Linked DNA regions of Homo sapiens. The protein of the gene in region 1 interacts with the protein of each later gene in a biochemical or structural test. Each region holds a gene or a part of one and is shown in the gene's direction. Other genes may lie near its edges.

The links.
Region 2: of the proteins of GRK5 (region 1) and TACR1, one has a biochemical effect on the other in vitro, tested with the Homo sapiens proteins (one study listed by BioGRID).
Region 3: the proteins of GRK5 (region 1) and CAV1 form a complex in vitro, tested with the Homo sapiens proteins (one study listed by BioGRID).
Region 4: of the proteins of GRK5 (region 1) and SNCB, one has a biochemical effect on the other in vitro, tested with the Homo sapiens proteins (one study listed by BioGRID).

The regions. Positions count from the first base shown.
Region 1 is NC_000010.11:119,441,302-119,448,788, forward strand, and holds part of GRK5 (G protein-coupled receptor kinase 5), read left to right. Parts: intron 1-697; coding exon 698-787; intron 788-2,242; coding exon 2,243-2,451; intron 2,452-6,821; coding exon 6,822-6,959; intron 6,960-7,487. UniProt on the Homo sapiens protein: Serine/threonine kinase that phosphorylates preferentially the activated forms of a variety of G-protein-coupled receptors (GPCRs).
Region 2 is NC_000002.12:75,196,120-75,204,015, reverse strand, and holds the start of TACR1 (substance-P receptor), read left to right. Parts: upstream 1-4,495; 5' UTR 4,496-5,081; coding exon 5,082-5,470; intron 5,471-7,896. UniProt on the Homo sapiens protein: This is a receptor for the tachykinin neuropeptide substance P. It is probably associated with G proteins that activate a phosphatidylinositol-calcium second messenger system.
Region 3 is NC_000007.14:116,555,549-116,561,679, forward strand, and holds the end of CAV1 (caveolin-1), read left to right. Parts: intron 1-3,397; coding exon 3,398-3,739; 3' UTR 3,740-5,631; downstream 5,632-6,131. UniProt on the Homo sapiens protein: May act as a scaffolding protein within caveolar membranes. Forms a stable heterooligomeric complex with CAV2 that targets to lipid rafts and drives caveolae formation. Mediates the recruitment of CAVIN proteins (CAVIN1/2/3/4) to the caveolae.
Region 4 is NC_000005.10:176,627,139-176,634,899, reverse strand, and holds the start of SNCB (beta-synuclein), read left to right. Parts: upstream 1-4,365; 5' UTR 4,366-4,620; intron 4,621-4,934; exon of another isoform or gene 4,935-5,091; intron 5,092-5,236; 5' UTR 5,237-5,245; coding exon 5,246-5,366; intron 5,367-5,399; exon of another isoform or gene 5,400-5,461; intron 5,462-7,761. UniProt on the Homo sapiens protein: Non-amyloid component of senile plaques found in Alzheimer disease. Could act as a regulator of SNCA aggregation process. Protects neurons from staurosporine and 6-hydroxy dopamine (6OHDA)-stimulated caspase activation in a p53/TP53-dependent manner.

The DNA.
Region 1 (7,487 bases):
GGGGTGGGGCCCTGGTGTCCATAGGCAGGGAAGGGAAGGGGACGTGTTCCTTCCTGTGGGGTAAGTTGTGGCCGCGACCCTGCCCAGGTGGGCTGTGGGAGGGACAAAGACCAAAGTGGAGCCTCAGCTCAGCGTCTCCCGCTCTGGGGGCTCAGTCCTGGGCTGTGAGCTGGGATTCATCTCCAGGCTCTGCCAGGTCAGACCAGATGTTTTCCCTTCTCGTTTCTCTAAAGTGAAAAACAACCAATCTCCAGAGACCAACAAGGCAGGCCGGGGAGCTGCTTCCCAAATCGTTTTATAATTTTTTCCCCTTAAGCAAATTGTTGCATAATGCCAGAAGAACCTCACATTTTTCCCATGAAGTAATCCCAGAACCAAGCCAAGATTCTCTGACCTCAGCGTTCCAGGAAGCCCATTCAGCCTTTGACTAGGCAGGTCGGTCAACGTCCAGCCGGGTCCAGGCATCCTATTGCATCTTTATGTTCCACTCCTGAAGAGTGGGCATTTTCCTGTGTCCTCCCACACCTGCACTCTCCCAAGGCTCTTGTGGTCACTCTGAGATGGCAGATTGGGGTCCCTGTTGTCCTTGGACAGATGAGAATGCCGAGAGCTCGTATGCCTTGCCCAAGGGCACACAGCAAGGCCGGGTGCCCATGCGGCTGTCCCAGGGACCCACTGACCCTGCTGTCCCCCTCAGGCCACATTAGGATCTCAGACCTGGGCTTGGCTGTGAAGATCCCCGAGGGAGACCTGATCCGCGGCCGGGTGGGCACTGTTGGCTACATGGGTGAGTGCTGGGCTGCCTGTGTCAATGCACCTTGAGACCCACCACCTGCTCACCGCCGGCCGAGCCCCCAGAGCCTGCCCGCAGAGCCTCTCGCCTCTTCATGCACTGCTGATCACACACAGAGTCACAGTCTCTGCAGGGCTGCTGGGGGGCGGCCTTAGCCAGGGGGAGGGGGAGCACAGGGGCCCCAGATGTGATGACTGCTCTGAGCTCTCTGCACTCCCAGGCCCCCAGCCCCACCTGTGTCCAAAGCCAAGCCACTCTTAGGGGTCGGGGCCTGGCATACAGCGCTGCTAGGGGAGGCCACATTGAAGCAGGGGTCTGGGAGGAGAGGCCTTTGAGAGGAAGGAGGTAATTCACAAGAGCCCGCAAATGAGAGGCGCGCACAGCTGCTGTGTCACCAAGCATGATTCCAGTAGAGAGCAGCCTTGGGCTCCTGCCACCTTTCCTCAGTCTGCTCTGAGACCAGCGTCCTGGGGGTTGCAGGGAAGAGACCCAGAGTTAAGTCCTGTGCCCTAGAATCCCCCGTCCAATTGGGGGCACGCCCTGGGCTTCCTCCTGTGCATTTCACACACCTACCCTCCTTCCCCTGAGAGGCGCGTGCCCGGGGAGCAGGCACGCTGCCGCCCTCTAGTCAGGCTGGTACTGACAGCAGCTGCACAGGAGGTGTGCCTTGTCTCTGGTGCTAGAGGGTCCTTTTCAGATTGCATGACATTTGGCAACCTGTGGAGTGTGTGTCTGTGTGTATGTGAGTGTGTGTGTGCCCACATGAATGCTGATCGATGATTGATAGGTAGGCGGGTGGGCGGGTGGATGGATGGTTGGATGGATGATGGATGATGGATGGGTGGATGATAGATCTGCCTACCTGTGTGTGCATTTGCCTGGGTCTCCTTTTGCAGAGTGTTCCATGCATCTGTCTGCCCCGGCTCTTGTGTGCAAACCAGCACATGTGTGGATGCATTTCCCTCCAGACATACGTGCTGATGCTGCAGAACTATCTTTTCTGTATTTCTATGGTAAATCTGTAATTCGGTTTATCAAAGTGGTACAGAAGACATAGCAAGAGATTGTTTGAATTACAGATAAATTTAAGATCATCTTTAATTTGGGTAGATACACCTTTATTCATTGAAACAAATATACTGATAGCACCTGTTCTGTGCCAGGTGTCATATTGTTACGGTAGTGAATAAAGTAGCTCATGTTCTAGGCGAGGGGACATCAAGAGTGCAGGACACCTCCATCCACGGTGGTCAGAGTTCTAAAGCTACAGTCAAAGTCCTTCGGGGGCACAGAGGAGAGTCATCAGGGCAAGCTCCCTGGAGGGGGTGGTATTCACAGCAGTTGGTGGGGTAAGAGTTGGTGGCGGCCATGAAACTCCAGGCCTTCTGTGAGCAGCGCCACCAGCTGTCTCCCTCCTCCTCACTCCTCTCTCCTCTCCTCTGCCCCCAGCTCCAGAGGTCCTGAACAACCAGAGGTACGGCCTGAGCCCCGACTACTGGGGCCTTGGCTGCCTCATCTATGAGATGATCGAGGGCCAGTCGCCGTTCCGCGGCCGCAAGGAGAAGGTGAAGCGGGAGGAGGTGGACCGCCGGGTCCTGGAGACGGAGGAGGTGTACTCCCACAAGTTCTCCGAGGAGGCCAAGTCCATCTGCAAGATGGTGAGCTCCTGGTGGCCAGATGCCACCCTCAAGCTGGTGGCTCCCCTCCCTGGGCCTGGCCCCAGTCTGTCCCCAGAACAGCAAACAGGCTGAAGGGACAGGGGTCTGAGCATGGGGGTGGGGGTTGCAGCCCACCAAGCTAGAGTTGAGGGCACTCCTTGCTGTGGACTGGGGTGGTCAGCGGAGACTTCCAGGAGAAAGCCTGGGTGGGGCAGGGACACCCAGGAACCAAGGGAAGAGGGGTGAGGGGAACAGTGTGGAACACCCTCACATCCAGCCTGTGGGGGGGTCCACACAGGGCGGAGAAGAGATGGTCTGAGCTGGTGCCCCAGACACAAAGCAACCTTGGGCCAAGCCCCGGCCCCTGCCCGTGGGCCTCCTGCTCCCTCCACCTCTGGATCCTAAGGTGTTGGTTTAAGACGAAGGGCTACAGGGGGTGGGGGCGACGATTTCAGTCTTTGAACATCTTATAACAAAGTTTTCCACCACTAGATGGACTGCTGGTCACGCCAGCCTGGCTCCTGCATGACAGGGTCTAGGGATAGTGAGGTCAGACCCACCCAAAAGCTGGGTGGGTGGGGCCAGATGGGGGGACTGGAAGCCAGATAAGGAGTGACAGGAGCCATTGGAAGTGGGGGATATGGGAGTGGAGTCCGCCCGTGCACCCCTGCCACTGGGCCGCCCCATGCCGGCCCTCAGGCCCTTCCCTGGGAACCAGGACTAGTGGCTGGCTTTGTGGGGAGATGGCCACTTCCTGCTGCTGCCTGGCTCTCAGCCCCCAAGTCCAGCCCATGCCCCCTTGGGGCCCTCCTCCTTATGGTCCCCAGCACAGCTGTGCTGGCACCCCCACTGCAAGCAGCTGCCCTCTAATGCCAGCCTCATAGGGACAGGAGGGGCCGGAGCACCCAGCTCCACAATTGCCAGCCCACAGACTTCCTCTCCTCTCCCTGGAGCCACAGATGTACCCCGTATCCCATGTACCCGGAGCCACAGATGGGCAAACCGAGCCTGGGAGGGGGGAGCCACACTTCCCACCCCTCTACATCTGCAGGCACTTTTGGGGCAGATTCAGCGTGTGCATTGACAACCCAGGCAACTCCCGGAGTTTAGGAAGCAGCAGTCCTGGGAGTTGATTAAAAGTCGCAATGCTTCTGCTCAGGAAGACCTGAGATCTGCGCCGCAAGCGGCCCCAGGAGGGTCTGGCTCGGCTCCTCACCCCAGAGGCCCCTCTCCTGCAGCCAGACACCTCTGCTTGGCCCCTTCCTGTCACCAACCTCATCCTCACATCACAGAGCTGTGGGAAGAAGTCCTGTGTGTACAGCAGACCCACACTCTAACCCCACAGCTGTTGGCCCGCCATGCAGCTGGGGCCTCAGAGAAAGCCACATGGTCATCGCAGCCAGGGCTAGGGTGGGGGGACCGGAGGAGCAGTGCAGCACTGGTCGGGTAAATGGAAATGTGGGTGTGAGCCATACTTGGCTGTCTCATTGGGAGATATCTGTCAGGTGCGACAAAACGAGACAAGGGAAAGAAGAAGGGGTCAGACAGCCGTGGGCAGAGCATCACCAAATGTCCCAGGTCAGGGCCAGGCAATCAGAGAAGCAGGTCTTGAGAGATCTCAGCAGGGATATGGGACGTACTAAGAGGATGACGAGGCGGAGAGGGCCCCAGTCCCACCCCCAGACCCCAGACACCCACCTTGGCCCCTGGCTTTGGAGCTGGGATCTCCTGCTGCAGCCTGGACCAGGGTGCTGCTGTCCCTCTGCTGCCCCCTGGTGGACACTGAGAGAAAGCCTGCTGCTCCCGGAGGACCTGTCCCGTGGGTACAAAACCACTGTCCTCTGGAAGCCTCTGGCCTTGCTGCGGCTTCCCTTACAAATGATCTTTGGTCTTGGGAGTCTAGTCTTAGGCCTCCTTCACGCCCTTGACTGCAGCATCTCCGGCATCTAGGCCTACCTTGTCCCCTCCAGCTGGTGGCAGCTCAGGACACTGCAGAGCCTGACTTGCCAGGAGACCTCGCAGGTCCTGGGTTCACAGGGCTATTTCTAGGCTCTGGTGGCTCCAGCCCTGCCTGCCTAAGAGGGTCCCTCCACAATCAGTGAGGAAGCCAGTCTCTGGCCCCCAGGTCTGTCCCCCATTCTACCTTAGCAGCCGCAGAACCCACTCCCCCTCCTCTGGAGCCCAGAAATTCACACATCTCACCACTTTGTCTCCTGAGCCCAGTCCATGGGCCCAGACCTCAGCCTCCATCTTCCCCAAACCCCTGCTCAGTCCCAGCACTGGGCCTTAGCCCCCCTCCAGCTCCCTCTTGCCTTTCAGCCGTCTTGGTCTCACTTGTCCTTCCAGCCCATCTGTACCCCTCCTCCAGGAAGCCCGCTCTGCCTGCCCCACCCATCCCAGCTCACACCTTCTCTTCCTCTCACTTCTCCTGGTGTCCACCTGATAGCATGATTGCAAACTCTTTACCTGACGATGTGGCTGCAAACTGTTGACTGGATGCCAGGGTTTCAAATGGCAGCATATAGGCGGGTGTTCAACCTGCACACGGTTTTTCAAAAGAAGTAAATGGTAGGTTCATTGCCAAGATTTAGAAATGAGGAGATTTCATGTAATAACCTGGATTTTCTGGCTTCTCTTGAAAAGCAGAAGCCCCAGGCCCTGGCTGCCGTCCCACCTGGCAGGAGCTGACACATAGCCCGGCCCGGCCCACCCAGCCCACCCCTCGCCTTTCTCATCCTCGTTTGTGCCACCTTCCTGGCCAGCTGCTGCAGCCCCTGCAGAAGGAGACTTGCCTCTGAGGGACTGCTTAGAACAGTGCAGCACCTGGGCCCAGCCCAACCCAGTGCCTTGAGCCTTTGTTGAACAGTGAAGCCCCCAGAGAGAGAAGCAGAGGCATGAGTGCCAGACCCTGAGCCGCCAGCCTGGTGGTCCGTGGGGGCGTTAAGGGGCAACACTGAGCGACTGAGTGCTCTGCTTTGTCCTTTCAAGGGTGGAACCTGGTGCTGGCCCTGATGCCACCTTCGATTCCTTTGTTTGGGGGGCAGCCCCCTCCAGACCCTGAGCCCCAAGAGGCCAGTCTGGCTGCTCACTCTCCCCGGCGTCCCCAGCCGGTGCAGTGCCTGCCCCACAAGGACCAGCAGGAAGTGTACATGGGATGAATATGAGCAAAGCGCACAGGGCATTGGGAAAAGACAAGGCTGGGCCCCTACCCCAAGCAGTCTGCTCCTCTGGATTTTAGCCTCAAAGCAGACACTTAGTAGACACCAACTGCGTACAGCTGCAGCGCTCAGTAAGGCAGAGGAGAAGAGAGAATCACGAGGCTGGGGCACTGGGAGTGCAGGTCAGGGGCCGGGGCCCTGTGGTCGTGTGGCTGGCCATGGCTAGTCAAGGCCCCCTGCGCAGGTCTAGCCCTCTGGCCTCATTCATAGCCTCATCCCGTCTCACCTGGGTGTCTGCTCCCAAAGACTCTTCCTCTCCTAGTAACCTTCCTGCCTCGTGGTTCTGATGAAGACACTCTCCTACCTCAACCATCCCTGGCTCCTTCTACCTCCAGATGAAAATCCCGCCACCTGACCTGGCCTTCAGGATCCTCTATCATCTCTCCCTGACCAGCCCCCTCCCCTTGACCCATCTCTGCACCCTCCTCCCGCTTTCTAAGTCAAACGTGTTTTGGGTGTTCCCCAGACTCACCCTGCACGTCCTGCCACTCTGCTTTGCTGGTGCAGTTCCCTCTACCTGTATACCCCTCCCCCTACCCACACCTTGAAAGCCTATTTGTCCTGCAAGACTCAACTTAAATACCTCTTCCCCGTGCAGCTCCCTGACCTCCAGCTGGCAGCCAGTCATGCCCCCTGCCCCCGGGGTGCCCGATCTGTATCACCTTGATGCGTCCTCTGAGCATGATTAGCCCCCCATGAGTCTGAGCACTCCTAGAGGCCAAGTGCCTCGGTGGTGCCTTCTCTGTCAGGAAGGGGCTTGCACCCAGGAGGTACAACTCTGCAAATTAGCTGAGTATGTGCACGAGACAGAGCTATTGATGCAGTCCTTGCCTTTTGTTGCTTACCCTACACAGAAGAGGTGACAGTGACTCGACACCCATTAATGAGTGCCCACCATAACCCAGGAACGAGGTCTGTAATCCTGAGAGAAACAAGATTCCTGCTCTCCTGTCCCATCAGGCATCTAGCCAGGCTGTGAGTGTGTGAGCACAGATGCACGCCAAGACTCAGAGGCAGCCCTGAAGCAAGACCTTTGCAGGGTGGGGCAGCGTGTCTTGGGTTCCTAGGCATGGTGCAGACACTGTGGAGGCAGGAGGTCCGGACAGGAGGAGAGGCCCAGGGGACGTGGCTTCATGGGGCTCTCTGTTTCAGCTGCTCACGAAAGATGCGAAGCAGAGGCTGGGCTGCCAGGAGGAGGGGGCTGCAGAGGTCAAGAGACACCCCTTCTTCAGGAACATGAACTTCAAGCGCTTAGAAGCCGGGATGTTGGACCCTCCCTTCGTTCCAGACGTGAGTAGCCTCCCCCAGCCCCCAGCAGCTCCCTTCACAGGGTACCCAGGGCTGCCCCCGAGTGCTGCCTCACAGTGAGCTGGTGCAGAGTGTGGGGCACATCGTGTCTTTGTGGGGACCAGGGTCCCCTCCCGGCCACTCCTCACCTAAGCTGCAGATGAACTTCACGCCAGGCAGTGCAGAAGAGGCGTGGGCCAGGGAGCCCACATTGGCTGTCCAGAGACTTGGGCACTTTCCCAGGTCTGGGGGTCCTGGACAGATTCCTTCTAAGCGTCAGTTTCCTCCCTGTCCAGTGAAACCAGTAACACTCATGCCTCCCACCTGCCTGGGAGATTTGAGGGTGAAATGAGAACTGAATGGGGAATGCTTTCAAGAGCATTGACGGCCACTACATTCAGTTCATCTTGACCAGCATGCATGCATCGAGCACTACTGTTGACGCCAGGTTCTGGGCCAGGCAGAAACATAAGAGGCCCCTCCCCCAGCAGCTCACATTGCAGGGAGTTGCATCTTCCCAGGAGGTCCCCA
Region 2 (7,896 bases), on another chromosome or scaffold:
AAAGTAAGCGAAGGACATGAACACTTTTCAAAAGAAGACATACCCATGGCCAAGAAGCATATGAAAAATTGCTCACTATCATTAATTATTAGAGAAATGCATATCAAAACTTCAATGAGATACCATCCCATATCAGTCAGAATTGCTATTATTAAAAAGTCAAAAAGTAACAGATGCTGGTAAGGTTTCAAAGAAAAGGGAACACTTGTATACTGCTGGTGGGAATGTAAATTAGTTCAGCCATTGTAGAAAGCAGTGTGGCAATTTCTCAAAGAACTTAAAACAGAATTACCATTTGACCCAGCAATCTCATTATAGGGTATATACCCAAAGGGATACAAATTGTTCTACCATAAAGATACATGCACTGATATGTTTATTGCAGCAACTATTCACAATAGAAAAGACATGGACTCAACCTAAATGCCCATGAATGGTAGTACACTGCATAAAGAAAATGTGGTACATATTTGTATATATACCACATATATAAATGTGGTATATATATACACGTGTAAATGGAATACTACACAGCCATAAAAAAGAACAAGATCATGTCCTTTGCAGCAATATGGATGGATCTGGAGGCCATTATTCTAAGCAAACTGAAGCAGGAACAGAAAACAAAATACTGCATATTCTCACTTATAAGTGAGAGCTAAACGCTGAGTACGTATGGACACATAGAAAGGACAACAGACACTGGGCCCTACTTGTGGCTGGAGGGTGGGAGGAGGGTGAGGATCAAAAAACTACCTATCAGATACTAAGTTTATTACCTGGGTGACAAAATAATCTGTCCACCAAACCCCTGTGACACAAAATTTATCTATATAACAAACCTGCACGTTACTCCTGAACCCAAAATAAAAGTTTTTTAAAAACCATGCTGGTGTCTGTGTATGTGCAAATATATGGGCAAATTGCAAATAATTCATGTTTTCGCTTTAAAAAGTAATACATGAAGTTGGTATAGACTCTTAGTTATTTGTATAAAATATAGGAAATAATTCAAAGAAACAAAACTTTATTTAAAACTTTTAAAAATAAACAAATATGAATAGAAACTCACAACATATATATGCATATGCATAGGAATATAAATATAATCTACTTCCCAGCAATTCCACTTTGAATCTACCCCCATAGAAAGAAAACACCAGGATGTAGAGAATGTTTATTGTTAATTGCCTTTAGTGACAAAAACTGGAAACAAAGTTAATTTTCATGAATAGAGAATTGAATGTATAAATTACGGTGTATCCATAACATAGAAATAATATTTAACCACTGAAAAATGAGTTAAATCTATACCTGTTGACTCTGAAACAGCTGGGCAAAGTTTAGAGTGGGAAAAACAAAATACAGACAACAATGAAAGTCCTATATTTGCATTTACATGTGTGAATATTATGTATGTTTGTATTTCCATCTAGATAGTATCAAAGAGTCTGGACAAATAAGGAAGGATTTATACTACATTGTTAACAGCGTTTACTTTAAGATGTGTGATCCTGTGTTGAGTGTCAAGGAAGATGTTCAGTGAAAAGAGGAACGAAGGGGGAAAAAGGATAAGAAAACAAGAATATCAGCTCTTGGAGGGAAATAGCATGTATAGAATTTTATCTATATATTTGTGCAAAGCTGTAGGGGGAAAATTCATTACTTTATAGATGGGTGATGCTAGATAAAGTGTCTCCTCATATCATAGGTATGAACCAAAAACAACTTCTGCTACTGTATAGCTGAGGCTTTTTTTTTTCCTCAATGGTGAACCCATCATGAATATGCTTTTTCTTTTTAAGAAGAGAAACTAGCTTTAGCAAGTCATAAGGATTCCTAAGATATGGCTACCAGCCATGAAAATCCCGGAGTAGAAAGAAAAACAACCCCAAGTCAGACTCATCAACACATCAGAGTTGAAGGCCAGGGTAAGGAACGTAGGTGTCCCAGTGCCTGGCACCAGTTCCACCATTTGAGGTGGCTTTGGACTGGCATACAAAGCCTCAAAGTTAGCCGAGGGCTAGGCAGGATGGAGGCAGGGAGAGAAGGCGGGCTGACCTGCGCTCCAGTCCCTATGCAAACCTGGAAGGTGAGCAGGGAGAAGAACCCCTGATGCCACCCAGGGCCCCGCTCTGACCTGCAGGCTCATAGGTGGGCAGTCATTATGGGACTTTAAGCAGAGTGACAAGGTTTGATTTATAAAACTTCAGCCTGAAATATTCGCCTTTTTTCCACCCTCAACCTCTTCCCATCCTAACTCATTCTTCAGGCTTCTTCATGGATGAGATTTTCTTCCATCTGTACGGATACCCCTCATTGTTTAGGTTAGGTGGCCTCCCTCTTCTCTCCTCACTCAGGGCTTAGTACCTTTGGTCATCATAATACCGCCCATTTTGTATGGTTCATTGCTTCTTGTTTGTCTTCCTCCATACTGTAAGTGCTTGTTCACCCCCCAGCCCCAGTGCCCAGCACAGTACCTGCTTCAAAATATCAACTTGCTGTACTAATGGAGGATAAATGGATTAATGTTTACTTTTTAGCTATTTCATATTTATTTTATATTTAGCTCTTATTACATATTTAGATTTTATTCGATTAGCTTTCTTTTTCTCCCTTAACCACTGAATAAAGTTCCTTTTGAAAACGTCAGCCTGGCTCTAATGGACAGGGAGAAAAAAGAAAAGATAACTTTAAACAGCTTGGAAGGAAAATTAAAGATAGAGAAGTTTCCCCTCCCCCCTCCCCCACCCTCCGCATCCCCTTCCCTCTCCCTTTTCCTCCCTCTCTCTGTCAGCTCTTTGAGATGGTGGAAGCCTCAAGCAGAGATCCAAGGTGGAGGAGGCATTCCCTTCCACAAAGAAGACCTCTTGTGCAGCCGCTCTAAATAAAGGGACGCTGTTCTCTTGAAAGCATCTCTAGAGTTTTCTATGCAGTGTGTTTACGGGTGCCTAGGAGAACCTGGCAAAGCAATGTGCGGTTCCTATATACGCTAAAATCCCAGGCTCCGAAAAAATACAGAGTGAAACAGCAGATTCTCCTCCCCGGCGTGGGATCCAATTTTTGCCCGGCATAAGTGTATAGTAAATTTCCCAGCCTTAAAGCACTTCCCGAGAGATGCTTTGAGCGCTCGCGGTACCAGTGCGTAAACGCCGCTCCCCGGCTGGCGCGGGTGTGCGCCAACTCCAACCTGCGCGCAAGTCTGCCGGTGCGCGCTCCAGTCCCACAGCTCCGAGTCCCCGCAGTGAAAGGAGGGGGCGGTGCACCGGGGTAGATGGGCCCCTGAGGACTCCCGGGGTTCAGTTTTCCGCGGAACTCTGCCTGCAGCAGTCTGGCGGGAACGTGCTGCGGAGCTCATCCCATCTTGGCTTCTCCAAAAGGGTTTATACGGACTGGCGAGTCTTTGCCCTGCCTCCTCCAAGTGTCTGGCACCAGTTCTACCGTTTGAAATGGTCTTGGACTGGGATACGAGGCCTCAAAGTCAGAAGACGGCAGGGCAGGATGGAGGCGGGCAGAGAAGGCTGGCTGACCTGTCCTCCAGCCCCTATGCAAACCTGGAAGGGGAACAGGGAGAAGGACCACCGATGCCACCCCGAGCCCGGCTCTGGCCTGCAGGCTTGGCAGGCGCGGAGGCGGAGGCTGCCAGGTCCCCGGGAGGCAAACGCAGCGCCGCAGTGATTGCTGGCGGAGAGCCCAGAGCCGCGCGTCTGAGCGACAAGCTGCCTATGAGTGTGGCTCCTGCGCTCACCAAGATTCGCAGGGAGCTCAGCCCTGTCCCCAGTGATTGAGCAGAGGCTCATCCAGAGGGGTCAGGTGGAGGGCTCAAATGGAGCTTCTCCTGGAACGAGGGGCCAAGTCACCAGGGTGGCTGAGGAAAGTGTCCTCAAAGCTTAGAGACTGTCACTTCCCAGGTGAATCAGCTAGCCAGGTAACTGAGCTAGATATTTTGTGGGGGTGTTTCCTAAACACAGCCTCAGGAAAGTTGTTTTCGGGACACCTGGACCAGGGAGTCGTCGCCTCTGGCTTCTCGGTAGCTGGAGCGCGGCCCGGAGCGCGGCGCTGGCACATCGCCCCCACACATGACCGTTTCCCATTGCCACAGGCAAGCCGCCTCTGCAGAGCTGTCTCAGGGCTCTGGGCTTCATTCCCTGGAAGTTGATTGTCCTCCACTCCAGCTGTTTCCCAAATCCTTCCTTCCTCCCAGCACCCCTCGTGCAACGACGATTCCAGCTGCGGACCGCATCTGTGTCAGTTACTTCCAAGCCACCTACTGCCCCCTCGCGGAGTGCGTGGGGCTCCCGGCTCGCAGACTCCCACGGCAAGTAGCAAGCAGCAAAAGGCGTGGTAGCTGCGGCGGTGGAATGAGACAGTTGTCAACAGCTGGCGCAGCTGCCGCGCTGCGCACCGGGACTGGCGAGTACGCAGCCCAGGTACTGCCCCTTCCCAGTGACGTCTCTGCAGGGGGTTATAAAAGCCTCGTGCGCAGCTAACTCGCGAGCTGAGCAACCCGAACCGAGAGGTGCCCGCGAAACTGCAGGCGGCGGCAGCGGCAGCAAAAGAGAAGGAAAAATCTCCAGCTGGATACGAAGCTCCAGAATCCTGGCCATAGGCTCAGAACTTTTACAGGTCGCGCTGCAATGGGCCCCCACTTCGCTCCTAAGTCCTCACGCAGCACAGGGCTTTGCCTTTCCCTGCGGAGGAAGGAGAAATAGGAGTTGCAGGCAGCAGCAGGTGCATAAATGCGGGGGATCTCTTGCTTCCTAGAACTGTGACCGGTGGAATTTCTTTCCCTTTTTCAGTTTACCGCAAGAGAGATGCTGTCTCCAGACTTCTGAACTCAAACGTCTCCTGAAGCTTGAAAGTGGAGGAATTCAGAGCCACCGCGGGCAGGCGGGCAGTGCATCCAGAAGCGTTTATATTCTGAGCGCCAGTTCAGCTTTCAAAAAGAGTGCTGCCCAGAAAAAGCCTTCCACCCTCCTGTCTGGCTTTAGAAGGACCCTGAGCCCCAGGCGCCAGCCACAGGACTCTGCTGCAGAGGGGGGTTGTGTACAGATAGTAGGGCTTTACCGCCTAGCTTCGAAATGGATAACGTCCTCCCGGTGGACTCAGACCTCTCCCCAAACATCTCCACTAACACCTCGGAACCCAATCAGTTCGTGCAACCAGCCTGGCAAATTGTCCTTTGGGCAGCTGCCTACACGGTCATTGTGGTGACCTCTGTGGTGGGCAACGTGGTAGTGATGTGGATCATCTTAGCCCACAAAAGAATGAGGACAGTGACGAACTATTTTCTGGTGAACCTGGCCTTCGCGGAGGCCTCCATGGCTGCATTCAATACAGTGGTGAACTTCACCTATGCTGTCCACAACGAATGGTACTACGGCCTGTTCTACTGCAAGTTCCACAACTTCTTTCCCATCGCCGCTGTCTTCGCCAGTATCTACTCCATGACGGCTGTGGCCTTTGATAGGTGAGATTAGCCTTTGTGAAAAGGCGAGAAAGTGCTCATAGAGGACCACGGCATTGCTGTGAGGTTTGGAACTGGGTGGGGTATGGGTCAAGTGGAAGATTGGCCACTCTGAGGGTTTTTTTACTGATCAACTGAGTCATTTGTTGATGGGGAACTTCATCTTATGTATTTCAACTTTTTTTCCTCTTTTTTACCCATCACTCTCTCTCTTCCTTTCAACACACATCCCCCTTTTCTTCATTTAACTCCCCTTTCTTCATCTCTTCTCCACTCATCTTCCTGACACTTTCAACTTCTGCTTTGCTCCTTTCCATATATTCCTTCTCCCCTTTACCCTTGCAGGCTGCAAACAATACCTAGGGTTTGGTCAAAGGACTAGACCCTGGAAGGGGCTTTGTAAATTCCTCCAGGCCTGTTTTTCTGTCAGACAGCCTCTTGTTGCCTTCCTGTTTTAAGTACACCTAGAGGATTCTGGGACTTTCTGCTCCCACTGCAACTCTCCAGTTTGTTGTTGTAGTTGTTGTTGTTGTTTGGTTGGTTGGTTCGTTGGTTTGTGTTTGTTTGTTTGTTTGTTTTGGATGTGAAAGAGCATTTCATCAGTATCATAAGATACTCAGAATTCTAATGCAGTTTACTCTGTAATGCTAGGAATTCTCATTCAGGAATGAGAGACAGTTATGCTATCCTTAAGAAACTCCACGGATAGGGATCCAGGAAGCTTACCCAAGAGGTGTTCTAAATTTCTCCTGCAATGTAAAATGTATGTATTTAGCCTGTCTCTATCCACAGAGAAACATGCTTGGCAAAGGCATTTGAGAGCTCTTCTGTTCCGGCAACCAACAGGTTAGGGTTCCCAAAGCTGACTGAAAGTGAAAAGGTTGGCATTTCAAACACTGGGGATGGTATTCTGGAATGAATGGCTCTTCAGGTAGCATGATGGAAAATTGATTATTGGAGCACAGCTCTGTTGGTATTGTCTCCTTTGTGAGTATCTTAGGTCTCCAATGTGTATGTCTATGTGTGCACAGGTGTTAAATGTTTACCTGGGATGTGAAAGTATGCTTAAAACACCTACCACTGTGATTTTAAAATGGAGTCTTTTGATGTCCTTCCTGAGATAACTGAATGTGAGAAACCCAAAGAAGGAGCTAGGAGAAAACTTCAAAAAAAATTCCAAACTACTAACCCTCTTTGCATAAAGATTGTTTATAACTTGCAAATTATTAGAAGTCTTTTTTAGCTCCTGTAGTCAATGAACACTTTTAAAATCAGGGAAATCTTCATTTCCATCCTTTGCAGTGGTGTCCAAATACTGATTTGTTAGTTCCCTGTACATCTCTCTATATGCAGCTCCTATGTGCTTACTATGTTTTATGTAAAACAAATTGTGGAAAATCAGTTTGTATTTTAAATGTAGATGGTAAACCAATTACTCAAAGTGGGAGTGAAATGAATTATTTTGCAAATTTATCTTTTGTACTACACTGGTTTTCAGATATTCAGTTTGCTGAAAGTGAGGTACACCTGTAAATCTTTCTGCATTGACATGCTCCTTTAATCTCATAACAGCTTCCTTAAACTTAAAAAAGTCGATAGCATGATATATAAGTGAATATCAGGGTAGTGAAACCTGATGCCAGTTCAGCCTTACAAACACTCTCTTGATGCCCCCTAAATTAGAGGGCAAGTTTTTTGGGGGGTTTTGTTTGTTTGTTTGCTTTTTCTGCACTGGGGCTTTGCACAAGCTCTAGGAAGACCTGTCAGTCAGTGTGAGCTGGAGCATTCAGTAGCTGATGGAGCACCAGCAGACAGCTCTCTCTTTTGGCTTACACAGAAACATGTTCTGCAGCCCTGATCTTTCCTCTGGAACTTAGAAGGTTAGGGGTGGGGATGAGAGTCAGAGTCCGCACAGTGGATTGGGCAGGGAGCCAGATTTCAGCTCCGTTGTTGTTTTTCTCTAGGTAAACCACCGCAGAGCCCCGACCCTCTGTGATACCTGCTCAGTGAGACCAAAAGGTCTCGGATGCCAGAGCTTTAGGAAATGACAGCGACAGGGAATGTCACCATGTTTCCAACATGCAGATACAGCCCAGGGAGGTTACCAATGGCATTCCTAAGATTAGAGTTCAAGGTAGAATTAGGGATGAGACTTCAGGTCTCTGTCTCCATGTCTGCCAAGTGCTCCTTCTATTTTTTCTTGCTCAGCCTGGTGAGCACACTATAAACTCACCCCCTCAGGCCTTCCAATGAATATATTTCCTGCATGTGTGGTCATCCATTCTCTCCCAAGAATGTATTGGAAAGAAAGGGGGCTTTAAGTCCTCTCCCTGTAAGTTATCTCCCTTTTCTCCAGCATGGAAATGCAGACTTAGAGGAAATATTAAATCAGCTGTTTGTATATTCCTTGAATTTTTAACAGACAACCT
Region 3 (6,131 bases), on another chromosome or scaffold:
AAAGAAAGAAAGAAAGAAAGAAAGAAAGAAAGAAAGAAAGAAAGAAAGAAAGAAAGAGAAAGAAAGAAAGAAGGGAGGGAGGGAGGGAGAGGAGAGAAAGAAAAAGGAAGGAAGGAAGGAAGAGAGAGAGAGAGAGAGAAAGACCTAGTCACCAAAAGCAAGAGATTTTTTAAATGCTACTATTTTTTGGGCATTTACTAATCATATTGCTATGCTCTGCACCCAAGCTAAGTAATTTAAATAAATTATCTCATGTACTCCTCTAAAACTAATTACTGCTGTGTAAATGGAGGTAGAAAGAAACTAAGCTTTATTTCTGCCTCTATTGTTTCTTTAACCTGCCTTGCTTCCTTTTTCAGTTGCACCTAATTGGCTGTACTTTTAGTTTTCTTTAAAACTGCCTTAAATTTCAAAGACTAAAGCAGCAATAACTAACTGAATATATTTATATAACATGTTATTTTTGTCATGTTGCTTTCCACCCCTGGAGACCTGCTCTAAATTCACTTGGACGTTTGAGGATAAATCATGCTCACTAGCAGTTTCTGAAAATGCAGTTTCACTGAAAATGCAGGCATCCAGAAATTTAGTAAGCAACTTAAAAGAAAGTGTAAGAATCTCCTATGTATTCATTGAAAAATAATTTGAATTTATGCTTAGAAAAATAGAATTATTATTAAGAAATCTTACACACTCATGTTTTTAAATATCTTCACTAAGGACCAATTGTGTATATGGTGTAACACTGTCCTCAAAGAACATGCCGGGAGAATTGTTGCAGTTACCAGAGGGTTAAATTTGGCAAACTCTTTTTTATTAACGTGCCTTTTAATTATGAAATAGCATACTCACCTTAGATAAAATTTGAAAACCATTTTTGTAAAGTGGTACAATATTGAAGAAAGTTGATAACTTTCAGACCAGATTTAAGCCTCAAATCTACCTCTCTTTTACCTGGACAACTCATTAGCATTTCTGAACCTCACATTTTTTCTATAAAGTGAGAATACTATATTATAGAGTTGTTGTCAGTTAAATGAGAACAGTGTCTGATCACAACTAGTCAACAAATGTTCACAACTCTTCCCCTCCTAGGAAAAGAATCTCAAGGCAGACCTGCTTCGGGTCTGCTCTGTAAAGAGGTAGGAATCCTCTGCTCCCGGTAAATTGCTTCCTAACCTTCTTTGGTAATAGACTATTTTTTAATAAAGGTGATGGATCATTTCCCATTATACACTCAAAATGTGTGTCCATTTCAGGGCAGTCATGGATGACCATTGCCCATCTTTTGACCCCAGATTAAGAACACCTGCTGTAGTATTTTAATTCTGCCTTCAAATCCTCTTACAAAACAAAGACATCTTTAAAAAATAAAATTCTTTAGGTGTCTTGCAGTTGAATGCAGGAAAACCAGAGCCCCTTATTTTTGATAGTTTTGGGAAGAATGCAGTGTCAGAACACAAACCCATAATAGACAAATAATTTGCACAGAAACTTCATAAAAGTATTGACCTGATTTGCCATGTATTTGCCACCTTTTAAAACACACAACTAAATGTTTACCCTGTGTCTAGATCCAAATGGGTGAAGAAAAATGAGTGACAATACATCTACTTAAGCTCACTTACATAATTGTGGCCATGCCGTTTTTTTCACATTACATTATTAGAACATTGGACAATAAGTCAAGAAACAGAATGTTCTACAAAATAAACTTTAAAAATTGGTAAGCATCATGTGCTTTTTCCAGAAGACATTTTATTTTGTTGAATCAAAGGTGGCTCTTTGGCACTGAGTAGCTCCGTGGAGTCATGGCAGTCCTCATTCCCTAATCCTGAGCCTGCCTGAGTCGCTGCTGTCAGTCATCCACTTGTTGGGATTTCAAACTGCATTAAATCCCCTCCTATAGCTGTCACTGCCAAGCAGTTGCACTGGCTCTGTCCTACCTTTCTGTTGGTAATTCTGTTTTTAATCCTGTGCTTCAGTGTAGTTTATATAAATCTTTACAGAGGGATAAAACTTCCTGTAATTAATTGTTTGGGTGAACATGTACCTGGGAGAGCTATTGGGAAAGGGGCCAAATTTGCATTCCAGCTCCTTTCATCCCCACCCTTGAGCTAACCAAGTCCTGTGGATTCTTCCCTTAGCATCTCTGGAACCTTCTTTTCTTTTCTTTTTTTTATGACCACCTTTCCAGTCCTGGCCCTTCAAACTTGAGTGACAGCAACAGTCTCCCTGCCTTGAGTCTCTTTCCTCCTTCTCCCAGTGTGCATACGGTTGTCAAACTCATCTTGATAAACTACTGCATCGATTGTGGCTACACTCCCCTGCTCCCACATCTTCCATAGACCCCACTGTCTGTAAAATAATATTCAGTCTGGCCTCAACCTGTCTTTCCAGCCTCGGTGACACAGGTCTATTCTGCCTGAGACACTTACTATGACACCCTTGCTTGTTCCTGGGGCTTTGACACATTTCCAACGTCCCATTGTTCTTCCTCTCCAAATCAGCCAATTGCCCAAGCCCTGCTCAAATCTCCCACCTCATGAAGCCTTCTTGATGCCTCCCAGCACACCATGATCTAATTTCCTGAAGTAATTATGCTAATTGGGCATTTGAAGAATTGTTAACCGATTATCAACTAACTGCCCCTTAACATTGCATGTGTAGTTGTCTTCAAAGGCAGTTAAATTATGTCATGTTCCTTACATTGTACTGAGTGCCTCGTATCCTTATCCATGTTTGGGGGTTTTACTTTAAGTCAAGAAATTTAATCACATCCATTTGGTTTTCTCTAGAGCTGTAGTTCTCAACCTTTTGTGTGGTAGAGAAACACCTAGAGAACATGTTTAAAAATATCCTGGGTTCCACCCTTGAGAGATAATAAGGTCCAAGGGGAACCCAAATATCTGTGTTTCAGGTCAGCTTATTGGCTCATCCTATTATACCAACTCCTCAGAAGGCCAAGGTGGGTGGATTCCTTGATCTCAGGCGTTCAAGACCAGCCTGGGCAATATCGTGAGACTCCATCTCTTAAAAAAAAAAAAAAAAAGGATTAGCCAAGTGTGGTGGCATGAACCTGTGGTCCCAGCTACTTAAGAGGCTGAGGCAGACAGATTGCTTGAGCCTGGGAAGTCGAAGCTGCAGTGAGCCATGATCATGCCACTGCACTCCAGCCTGGGTGACAGAGCAAGACCCTGTCTCAAAAAAATAAAAATGAAAAAAATCTGTGTTCCCAAGTTCCAAGTGATGCTGATGCTGCTGGTTGCCTTTAAGCATCTCACAAAGAACGAACTCATAAATGCTAATACAGTATATGTCTATGGATACTGAATAGTGGGTTTTTTTTCTCTTTTCTTCTATTCTGTGCTCATGTTGTGTCACTTCTTCCTTTTAGATTGACTTTGAAGATGTGATTGCAGAACCAGAAGGGACACACAGTTTTGACGGCATTTGGAAGGCCAGCTTCACCACCTTCACTGTGACGAAATACTGGTTTTACCGCTTGCTGTCTGCCCTCTTTGGCATCCCGATGGCACTCATCTGGGGCATTTACTTCGCCATTCTCTCTTTCCTGCACATCTGGGCAGTTGTACCATGCATTAAGAGCTTCCTGATTGAGATTCAGTGCATCAGCCGTGTCTATTCCATCTACGTCCACACCGTCTGTGACCCACTCTTTGAAGCTGTTGGGAAAATATTCAGCAATGTCCGCATCAACTTGCAGAAAGAAATATAAATGACATTTCAAGGATAGAAGTATACCTGATTTTTTTTCCTTTTAATTTTCCTGGTGCCAATTTCAAGTTCCAAGTTGCTAATACAGCAACAATTTATGAATTGAATTATCTTGGTTGAAAATAAAAAGATCACTTTCTCAGTTTTCATAAGTATTATGTCTCTTCTGAGCTATTTCATCTATTTTTGGCAGTCTGAATTTTTAAAACCCATTTAAATTTTTTTCCTTACCTTTTTATTTGCATGTGGATCAACCATCGCTTTATTGGCTGAGATATGAACATATTGTTGAAAGGTAATTTGAGAGAAATATGAAGAACTGAGGAGGAAAAAAAAAAAAAAGAAAAGAACCAACAACCTCAACTGCCTACTCCAAAATGTTGGTCATTTTATGTTAAGGGAAGAATTCCAGGGTATGGCCATGGAGTGTACAAGTATGTGGGCAGATTTTCAGCAAACTCTTTTCCCACTGTTTAAGGAGTTAGTGGATTACTGCCATTCACTTCATAATCCAGTAGGATCCAGTGATCCTTACAAGTTAGAAAACATAATCTTCTGCCTTCTCATGATCCAACTAATGCCTTACTCTTCTTGAAATTTTAACCTATGATATTTTCTGTGCCTGAATATTTGTTATGTAGATAACAAGACCTCAGTGCCTTCCTGTTTTTCACATTTTCCTTTTCAAATAGGGTCTAACTCAGCAACTCGCTTTAGGTCAGCAGCCTCCCTGAAGACCAAAATTAGAATATCCATGACCTAGTTTTCCATGCGTGTTTCTGACTCTGAGCTACAGAGTCTGGTGAAGCTCACTTCTGGGCTTCATCTGGCAACATCTTTATCCGTAGTGGGTATGGTTGACACTAGCCCAATGAAATGAATTAAAGTGGACCAATAGGGCTGAGCTCTCTGTGGGCTGGCAGTCCTGGAAGCCAGCTTTCCCTGCCTCTCATCAACTGAATGAGGTCAGCATGTCTATTCAGCTTCGTTTATTTTCAAGAATAATCACGCTTTCCTGAATCCAAACTAATCCATCACCGGGGTGGTTTAGTGGCTCAACATTGTGTTCCCATTTCAGCTGATCAGTGGGCCTCCAAGGAGGGGCTGTAAAATGGAGGCCATTGTGTGAGCCTATCAGAGTTGCTGCAAACCTGACCCCTGCTCAGTAAAGCACTTGCAACCGTCTGTTATGCTGTGACACATGGCCCCTCCCCCTGCCAGGAGCTTTGGACCTAATCCAAGCATCCCTTTGCCCAGAAAGAAGATGGGGGAGGAGGCAGTAATAAAAAGATTGAAGTATTTTGCTGGAATAAGTTCAAATTCTTCTGAACTCAAACTGAGGAATTTCACCTGTAAACCTGAGTCGTACAGAAAGCTGCCTGGTATATCCAAAAGCTTTTTATTCCTCCTGCTCATATTGTGATTCTGCCTTTGGGGACTTTTCTTAAACCTTCAGTTATGATTTTTTTTTCATACACTTATTGGAACTCTGCTTGATTTTTGCCTCTTCCAGTCTTCCTGACACTTTAATTACCAACCTGTTACCTACTTTGACTTTTTGCATTTAAAACAGACACTGGCATGGATATAGTTTTACTTTTAAACTGTGTACATAACTGAAAATGTGCTATACTGCATACTTTTTAAATGTAAAGATATTTTTATCTTTATATGAAGAAAATCACTTAGGAAATGGCTTTGTGATTCAATCTGTAAACTGTGTATTCCAAGACATGTCTGTTCTACATAGATGCTTAGTCCCTCATGCAAATCAATTACTGGTCCAAAAGATTGCTGAAATTTTATATGCTTACTGATATATTTTACAATTTTTTATCATGCATGTCCTGTAAAGGTTACAAGCCTGCACAATAAAAATGTTTAACGGTTAAACAGTCAGCTTTATTATTTTTTCCCAAAACAGGTGTTTATGTGTCAGAGTCTGTGTATGTCTATGTATTTGTATGTAATGAGCATGTGCATAGTGTGTGTATGTGTTTGTATGTGTTTGTGGGGGGTAATGGTCTCCCACTTTAAAATTATTACAAAGTCACTTAGGATATTTCTGCTAAGGTCATCACCATTTATGAGTTGCTTCAGATAAAAGTTATAATTAATAACAAAGTTTTTTTAGCAATTTGCCCAATGTTTTATATGTCATCTAATTTGAGCCCCCAGCAAGCTTGTGTGATGGATATTAATACTCTTAACTTAGCGAAAGACACAATTTGCATTCGGGGCCAATGCCTTCAACTTTGCCATGCCTTAACTGGGTTTTAAAGAGGTATATTGCAGTCTCAATTTATGTTTGTTGCTTGGCTAAGTTTACCTTCAGGACTCCTATATTAGGGTTCTCCAGAGAAACAAAACCAATAGGAGATAGTTGGAGATAG
Region 4 (7,761 bases), on another chromosome or scaffold:
TCAGGAGATCGAGACCAGCCTGGCCAACATGGTGAAACCCTGTCTCTACTAAAAATACAAAAATTAGCCAGGTGTGGTGGCGGGTGCCTGTAATCCCAGCTACTCAGGAGGCTGAGGCAGGAGAATCCTTTGAACCCAGGAGGCAGAGGTTGCAGTGAGCCGACATCACGCCACTGCACTCTAGCCTGGGCATCACAGCAAGACTCTGTCTCGAAAAAAAAAAAAAGAAAAAAAAAAAAACTTCAGGAATTGTGTGAGCCAGTTGTTAAAGCCATTACATTGTTAAAAATTAAATTATATAAAGTTATAGTTACATTATGTTTAAAAAACATAGATAATACTCAAAACACATAACTTCCTAGTTATTTTACTATTATCTGTGCTCTTAAGGTTATTTTTATCTACGTTATCTGTCTCATGAAAATTCTAGATAACTGAACCAATTTTCTGTTCAATGACATCACACTGACAGCTTGGAATCAACTGTGGTGGGAGTATTTTACCCCAAGGACATTGGCAAACCACAAATCTAGGTGTTCCTTCCTGCCTACCCTTTTCCCGCCCCAACCTTGGAGAGCCATTTGTGCCATTTGTTAAAGAATTCTGAGTACACCGTGGCTCAAATCTGCATCTGAAGCCAGCCTGGAGTGCTTTCCTGAGCTCTGGGCTCAGATACCCTAGTGTCTGCTGGACACCTCCTCCAGCTTGTCTGTCATTCCCCCAGACAAGCTCATCATCATCCCCCCACCAAGCTGCTCCACCCCCTCAATGCCTATTTCATTTTGCAGCAACATCACTCACCCCATTGTCCAAACCAGAAACCTGGGAATCTTCCTCAACTTGTCCTTCTCCGTCTCCCATAACACCTAATAAGTTACTCCCAAGTGATGTTCACGTCTCTCCTTCCAGCCCTGCTCCAGCGTCACCCGGGCTTCTGTAGTTCAGGCGTCCTTGTCCCTCCTCTGGAGTCTGCCCCAGCCTCCTACTGATCTTTCTACAGCCAGCCTTATCCTCCTCCAACCCATCTCCGTTTGGCCCCATAAAATGCAAATCTCATTAGGTCTCTTGTGCTTAAAATCCTTCAGTGACTTCTTGTTTCCTGTGATCTGAAGTTCAGACACGCTTCATTTCATCTTCTTTCTCTCTTCCTCCTTCTCCCCGCTCCTCCATCCTCCTTCATCTTTCTTTATCTTGTACTCTGGCATCAGGAGTTCTTAATCCCAAGCCACAGAAATCACTTCTGGGTGATTTAAGCAAATAAGGAGTTTATTAAATACTGGGCAGCTCATGGGCCAGGTACAATAGCTCATACCTGTAATCCCAGCACTTTGGTAGGCTGAGGTGGGAGGATCATTTGAGGCCAGGAGTTCGAGACCAGCCTGGGCCACCTAGTGAGACCCTGTCTCAACAAAAAATAAATAAGTAAATCACAAACAAATACCCTGTCTCTACGAAAAATAAATAAGTAAATCACAAACAAATAATAAATATTTTTTAAATTAGCCTGGCATGGTGGCACGCACCTGTAGTCTCATCTACTGAAAGGGCTGAGATGAGAGAATCACTTGAGACCAGGAGTTCGAGGCTGCAGTAAGCTATGATTGACTGTGCCACTGCACTCCAGCCTGGGTGATACAGTGAAACCTTATCTCTTAAAACAAACAAACAAACAAACAAACAAACAAAAAAAACACTGGACAGCTCAAATAATCTCCAGGATAGCTAGAAAATCCACGCTGGAGACCACACAGCCTGAAATGATGCCCCAAATCCCACTACCAGGCAGACCTATGAAGAATCCCGATGCCATGGCTGGGCATGGACAGTGCAGCTTGTCCTGTTGGTGTTGGACACTCCCACAGTGAGTGTCACTGCTGCCAATGGTCCTTGGCAGGAGCTGCCACCACCACTTTTCCACACCAGAACACACCCCTCCCCCACCCCGCCCTCTGCTTCCCTGCTGCTTCCTGGGACTAGCTTCAGGTCCCAAGTCTGGAGCTGCACCTGTCAGTCACATGTCCTGGCTGCAAGGAAGACTGAGAAAGCAATTATCTGGCATAGTCATCTCTCAGAGGGGAAGGTGGGTTCTGCCTCAGAAGGTGGGGGACCCCTCTAAACATGGGAAGGGGGCAATTTTAATGCTGAGAGACCAAAAATAACTGCAGGTACCCTCCATGCTAGTTCTTAAAATAACACAAGTAAAATACTATCCAAGGGAAAATAATCAAACAGCACCAGTAAGGAAGGCAATGGAATGTGAAACTTCCTTCCCTGAACCCTCTCAGTCCCGTTTCCTAGGTGCAACTCCCTTTAACAGTTTTCTCAGAAATTATTACAGAGGTGTGGCCAGGTGAGGTGGCTCATGCCTATAATCCCAGCACTTTGGGAGGCCTAGGTGGGCCGATCACTTGTGGTCAGGAGTTCGAGACCAGCCTGGCCAACATGGTGAAAACCTGTCTCTACTAAAAATACAAAAATTAGCTGGGCGTGGTGGCACATGCCTGTAATCCCAGCTACTTGGGAGGCTGAGGCAGGAGAATTGCTTGAACCCTGGAGGTGGAGGTTGCAGTGACCCAAGATTGCACCACTGCACTCCAGCCTGGGTGACAGAGGGAGACTCCATCTCAAAAAAACAAGAAAGAAAAAAGAATTGTATATCTAGCCATAAATATGTGTATGTTTGTATATAAGGTGTCTGTGTATAATGTATATAGTATGTGATAAGTATGTATATGTTAGTATATAATATATATTTGACACATAGAAAATTATAAGTACTTATACATAAAATATAATTCCCTTTGTATCAAAATTGGCTCATTCCACACATTCCAGTTTGGCACCTTGCTTCTCACACTTACCACCACATCTTGGCACACTCCCATGTCAGCACACATGGGTCTAGCTCATCTTTGCCAACCATAGTGTGGCATTGCACTGGGTGGATGTGCCACAGTTAGCTAGCCAGTCCTGTACAGATGATCATTTAGATCATTTTCAGTTTTTTGCTACAAAAAAACATGCTACAGTGAACATCCTTGCACAGGTATCTTTGTGTGCATGTATGGCTAGAGTCGCACGGGATCAATTCCTGGAAGGGGAGCTGTTGGCTCCAAAGGCGCATGCATTTATGCTTGGTAAACATTGCCAGATTGCCTTCCAAAATGTCTGCGCCAATTTGCAGTTCTACCAGCGGCCTGTGAATGTTTTTTGTTTGGTTGGTTGGGTTTTTTCCTTTTTTTTTTTTTTTGCAGTCTGGCTGCTGGTGGCCCCCTCGCCTAATTACCTGTCACTTACACACCCTGCATTTCTGGCCACAGTGCCTTTGCCCATGCTGTACCCACAGCCTAAAATTCTCTTTCTCCCTAGCCTGCTCGATGAAATAGTCCCCTTCCTGTCAGGCCACAGTTCAGTTGTCACCTCTTTTTTATGTCCTTTCCTGACTCCCCTAAGTTGTCAGAGTCCCTTTCCTCTGGGATACTACAGCTTCTTGGGCATAATTCTATCATAGAACCAACTGAGGGCCTACTGTGTGCCTGGCATTCTGTGATCATTTTGACAGTCCCCACCGTAAGCACACAAAAAAGTGGTTTTGTTCTCCACCTCCCTCCATCCTGGCTCTCCAGCTGCGCTGTCTTTTGTCAGCACAGTCCTGCCTTGGAGCCTTTGCACTTGCACTCTCTATGGATCTTGTCCTCACCCATCGTGGTGTCATGGTGCCTCTCTGGAGTCTCTGCTACAATTCACCTGCTGGTAGAGGCCTTCCCTGAGCACCCTGTCTCAAGCACCCCTCCTCTAGTCCCCGTGTTACATCACCGTTACCTTCACAACTTACAAGCTGTAATGACCTTGTTGCTTTGGATGTTGATCCGTTTATTTTCTGTCCTGTCTTCCACCACTGAGCGCACGAACACACACGCGTACAGACACCCCCATGGTAAGCTTCCCGAGACCAGGAACCTTGTTTTCCTTTTCCGCTGCCTCCAGCCTTAAACCTGCACCACTGGACTAAGCGCTCAGTAAACATTCGTTGAATTAACCATTCCTGTTTTACAGAGGAGGAAACTGTCATTCAGAAAGGAGAGCCGAGTAGCTCAAGGTCCCACGGTTAATAAAAAGCACAGCTGAGATTCGAGCCCAGCAGAACTCCAAATCCAGTCGCGTGATTTCTTCCCCACTCTTCACACGCCGCGTTGTCCCCCTCCCTCAACTCCCAACAGACTACGCGAGTCTTACGGCCGGGGCCCCCAGGGGCGCGTCCCGGGCCCGCCCCGGGAGGCTCATCGGCTACGCGCTGTCACCCTCCCCGCCCCCTGTCAGTCAGGCCGAAGGGGCGGCGCGGCCGCCAGCGGGGGCGCTGAGCTCAGAGCTGCCGCAGCGCCGGAGCCGGAGCCGGAGCCGGAGCGCGCGAGCTCGCAGGGCGCGAGGAACGAGCGGTGGCTGGCTACGCACCCGAGACCCGGGCACTGCTGCGCTCCTGCTCAGGACCCGCGACCCGAGCGCCTGATCCCGGCCCTATCCCCCCTCCGGCCCCTGGTCCACCCCGGCCTGGCCTAGCGGAGCCCCCGCGTCCGCCCGCCGCAGCCGCCGCTCCATCCCCAGCCCCGGCCCCGCATCCAGGTGAGGCGGCCGCGCGCCGGGGATGGGGAACGGGATGAGGATGGAGAGGGGACTGGGGCGACAGGAGGGAGCTGGGGAAGGGGATGGAAAATGGAGGGAGACCCGGGGGATGCGCGTCAGTGTGCACCCCGGAGTATGTGAGTATGCTCCGGTGTTTGCAGCTGCCCGGGCGGCTGTGGGGACGTGTGTCCGCGCCCATGTGGGTCGGGGTATTCGTGCGCGTTGGAGCGTCTGCGTGTCCTGTGTGTGCACGTGAGCTTGTCCGTGGTGTATGTTTGTGTGCATGACCGTGTGACTGTGCCGTGCGTGTACAGGCGGGTCCTGGATATTCGCGCCGAACCCAGCACTCCGGTTCGACGGGGCTGCAGTTTGCAGGGCCCGGATAACCGAGGCAGTGGCCCCTCCCGCGTCCCCAGGTTTCAAGGACGCTAGGACTCTCCGCGGCCCTGAGGCTTCGCACTGGGGAGTGGGGTGGGATGGGGGGAAAGCGGGAGGGGGCTCAGGGTCCAGAAGGGCGCCGCGGTCTCGGGAGTAGGGGGGCATCTGCGTCCCGCGGGAGGGGCTGGGGTGAGAGTGCGGGGCCAGTGCACCGGTGCCCGTGTATCGCCCTCCCCAGGCCGCCAGGATGGACGTGTTCATGAAGGGCCTGTCCATGGCCAAGGAGGGCGTTGTGGCAGCCGCGGAGAAAACCAAGCAGGGGGTCACCGAGGCGGCGGAGAAGACCAAGGAGGGCGTCCTCTACGTCGGTGGGTAAGGGGCGGGGTTTCTGGGGCTGCAGGGCTGGGGGTCCCCCGACAGTGTGGAGCTGGGGCCGGGTCCCGGGGAGGGGGGTTCTGGGCAGGAGAATATGAGTCAGCAGATGGGGCGAGGTCAGCAGGGGTCATAGGGGACATAGCCAGCCCATAGAAGCCTGGGTCTGTATCCGGAAATGGGGACACGGGGCGGGCTGATGAGGTGGGGGGCTCCAGCTGAAAGGCCAGGGACCAGTGCAGTGATGAAAGCAGACAGCCTCCTTTTTCTTATCTTTTTTACCATTATTAATAGTTATCTGGTGTTGAACACTTTCTGTATGCCAAGTACTGGGTAAAATGTCATAACATCCATTTCCTCATGTAATGCTTCGGCCCATTCTACAGGTAAGGGAAACTGGGCTTCCCAGAGATCTAAGTACCTTGCCCAAGGTCAGCAGCTGGTAAATGCTGAAGCTGGGGTTTGAACGGAGCTTTATAGATTCTGAAGCCCCACCCCTCCCCTTGTGGCGCCTCCCTCCAGCACCTCCAAGGCCGAGTTGAGTTGCGTTCCAGGTCCACCTGCATCACAACTCTTGTGGTTTTACCTTTGCCAGCTCTCTTCCCCGTCCACTTTCCTTGCAACCACTGGCTGGTATCAGAAGAAAGGCCAGGGTTGGATAACTTGCCCAGGGTCGTGGCATATTTGGATTGTGGCCATTTGAAAAATATTTTGTGTCCACTTACTATGTGCCAGGCATCCTGCAGATGCTGGGGTTTCACAGTGAACAGGAAAGAATGGTTCCTGATCTCCTGATGGTGATACAGAGCATTTCAGCAGTGCGAGTTGACATCCAGTGGCTCCCTGAAGAGAATGCCTCATCCCTGAGTAATAAGAGGGGGGCAGGGCTGCAGAAAAGCCAGGTGCAAAGGCCCTGGGGTGAGCTGGGGGCAGGGCAGGAAGTAGTGGTAGGAGGTGAGGTCAGAGCGATGGGCAGGAGACAGTTCACGAGGGCCCTTTGCAGGCCAGGGCAAAACGTTGTTATCATGGCCACGAGAGACTGTAAGCAAGGGACTGCCATGATGTGATTAGTTTAGAACGGTCACTTGGGCCTCTGGGGACAGAAAAACTGCAGGGAGGCCTGATGAGGCCACAGGATGAGGGTGGCAGGGGCGAGGGTGGTGGCAATGGAGACCGGGAGAAGGCTAAAGTGCATGGCTGCTTGATCCCAGCTCTGGCCTCCCTCCTGCCTCCTCCCCAGGGTCTTTCATTCCTGCTGGCCTCTGGCTCTCTGACACTCTCTCTCTGATAATAGACTTGGCCCCTCCAAGCCATGCTGCTCTTCCCCTTAGATTGGCACTTCCTGCTCCTGCCTCTGCCTGGGAGCCCCTGATGGACCCCAGTTCCTACAAGTTAAAGCCTCGGCTCCCTGTACCCTGGCATTCAGTGCCCTTCATGGTCCTGCCTCAGTCTACATTTCCCACCACACCCATGGCTCCTGGCACATGGACTGTCCTGAAAGCACATTGCTCTGCCTTGTCTGTGTGGGTCCCTGGGCCTGGGATACCCTCTGCAGTCTCCTTTCTGATGTCCATCTGTTCCCCATTTCTCAAGGCCTAGGCAGTGTCCCTTCCCTCCTCACATAGTCAGTCCTTGGAGGCTGGAAGTCCTCTCCCCACTACTTGAGGTCCAGGAACTGAATCTGTTCTTCTCTTACCCACTTCAGACAGTGAGCGATTGGCCCAGGGCCTGGCACAGAGTAGGTGGAAGCTGATGTTTTGTGGGAGGAGTGAAAGGGGAGCATGCAGCCTGCCCCTCCTGTCTCTGGGTGCTGGTTGGCCTTCGCCCTGAGAACCCTGTCTTCCCACACCAGCCTCTTCCCCCACCCCCCCGCCGGGCTCAGTCTGCCTAGACACCCAGTTCTGGCTCCATCACTGTTGTCTGTGTTGCCAAATTGTCAGACGGGATACTCCCCACCCCGTTTCCGTCTCTCATCCTCCAGCCCAGATCAGGCCCTCTGGCCTTCCCAGCGGCCCCCAGACATTTTGAAGTTATCAAGTTGCTACCCTCCGAGGAAGGCCCAGCCAATGCCACGGGTGCCAGTTACAATCTGCACATCACCTTTAGACCCACCCTGAGCCTGACACCCCCTACTTTGGCCAGAAGAAGGGGTTTGCACCCTCGCTAGGAGAAGAGAATCTTTAGAGGAAATGGAGTGGGGCAGTGGGCTATGGGCAGTGGTGCATGGGGCACGAGGGGAACCTTTCAAAATACATGGCTTTGTGGCCTCCCAGCTCCACCCCTACTCCCACCCCCACCTGCCTCCTATCCTGGGCTACGTGCTGTGAGAGTGGTTGGTAGCTAAAGTTTTAGGGTCAGAAAGGCCTGAACTTGAATGTCAGTTCAGCCACT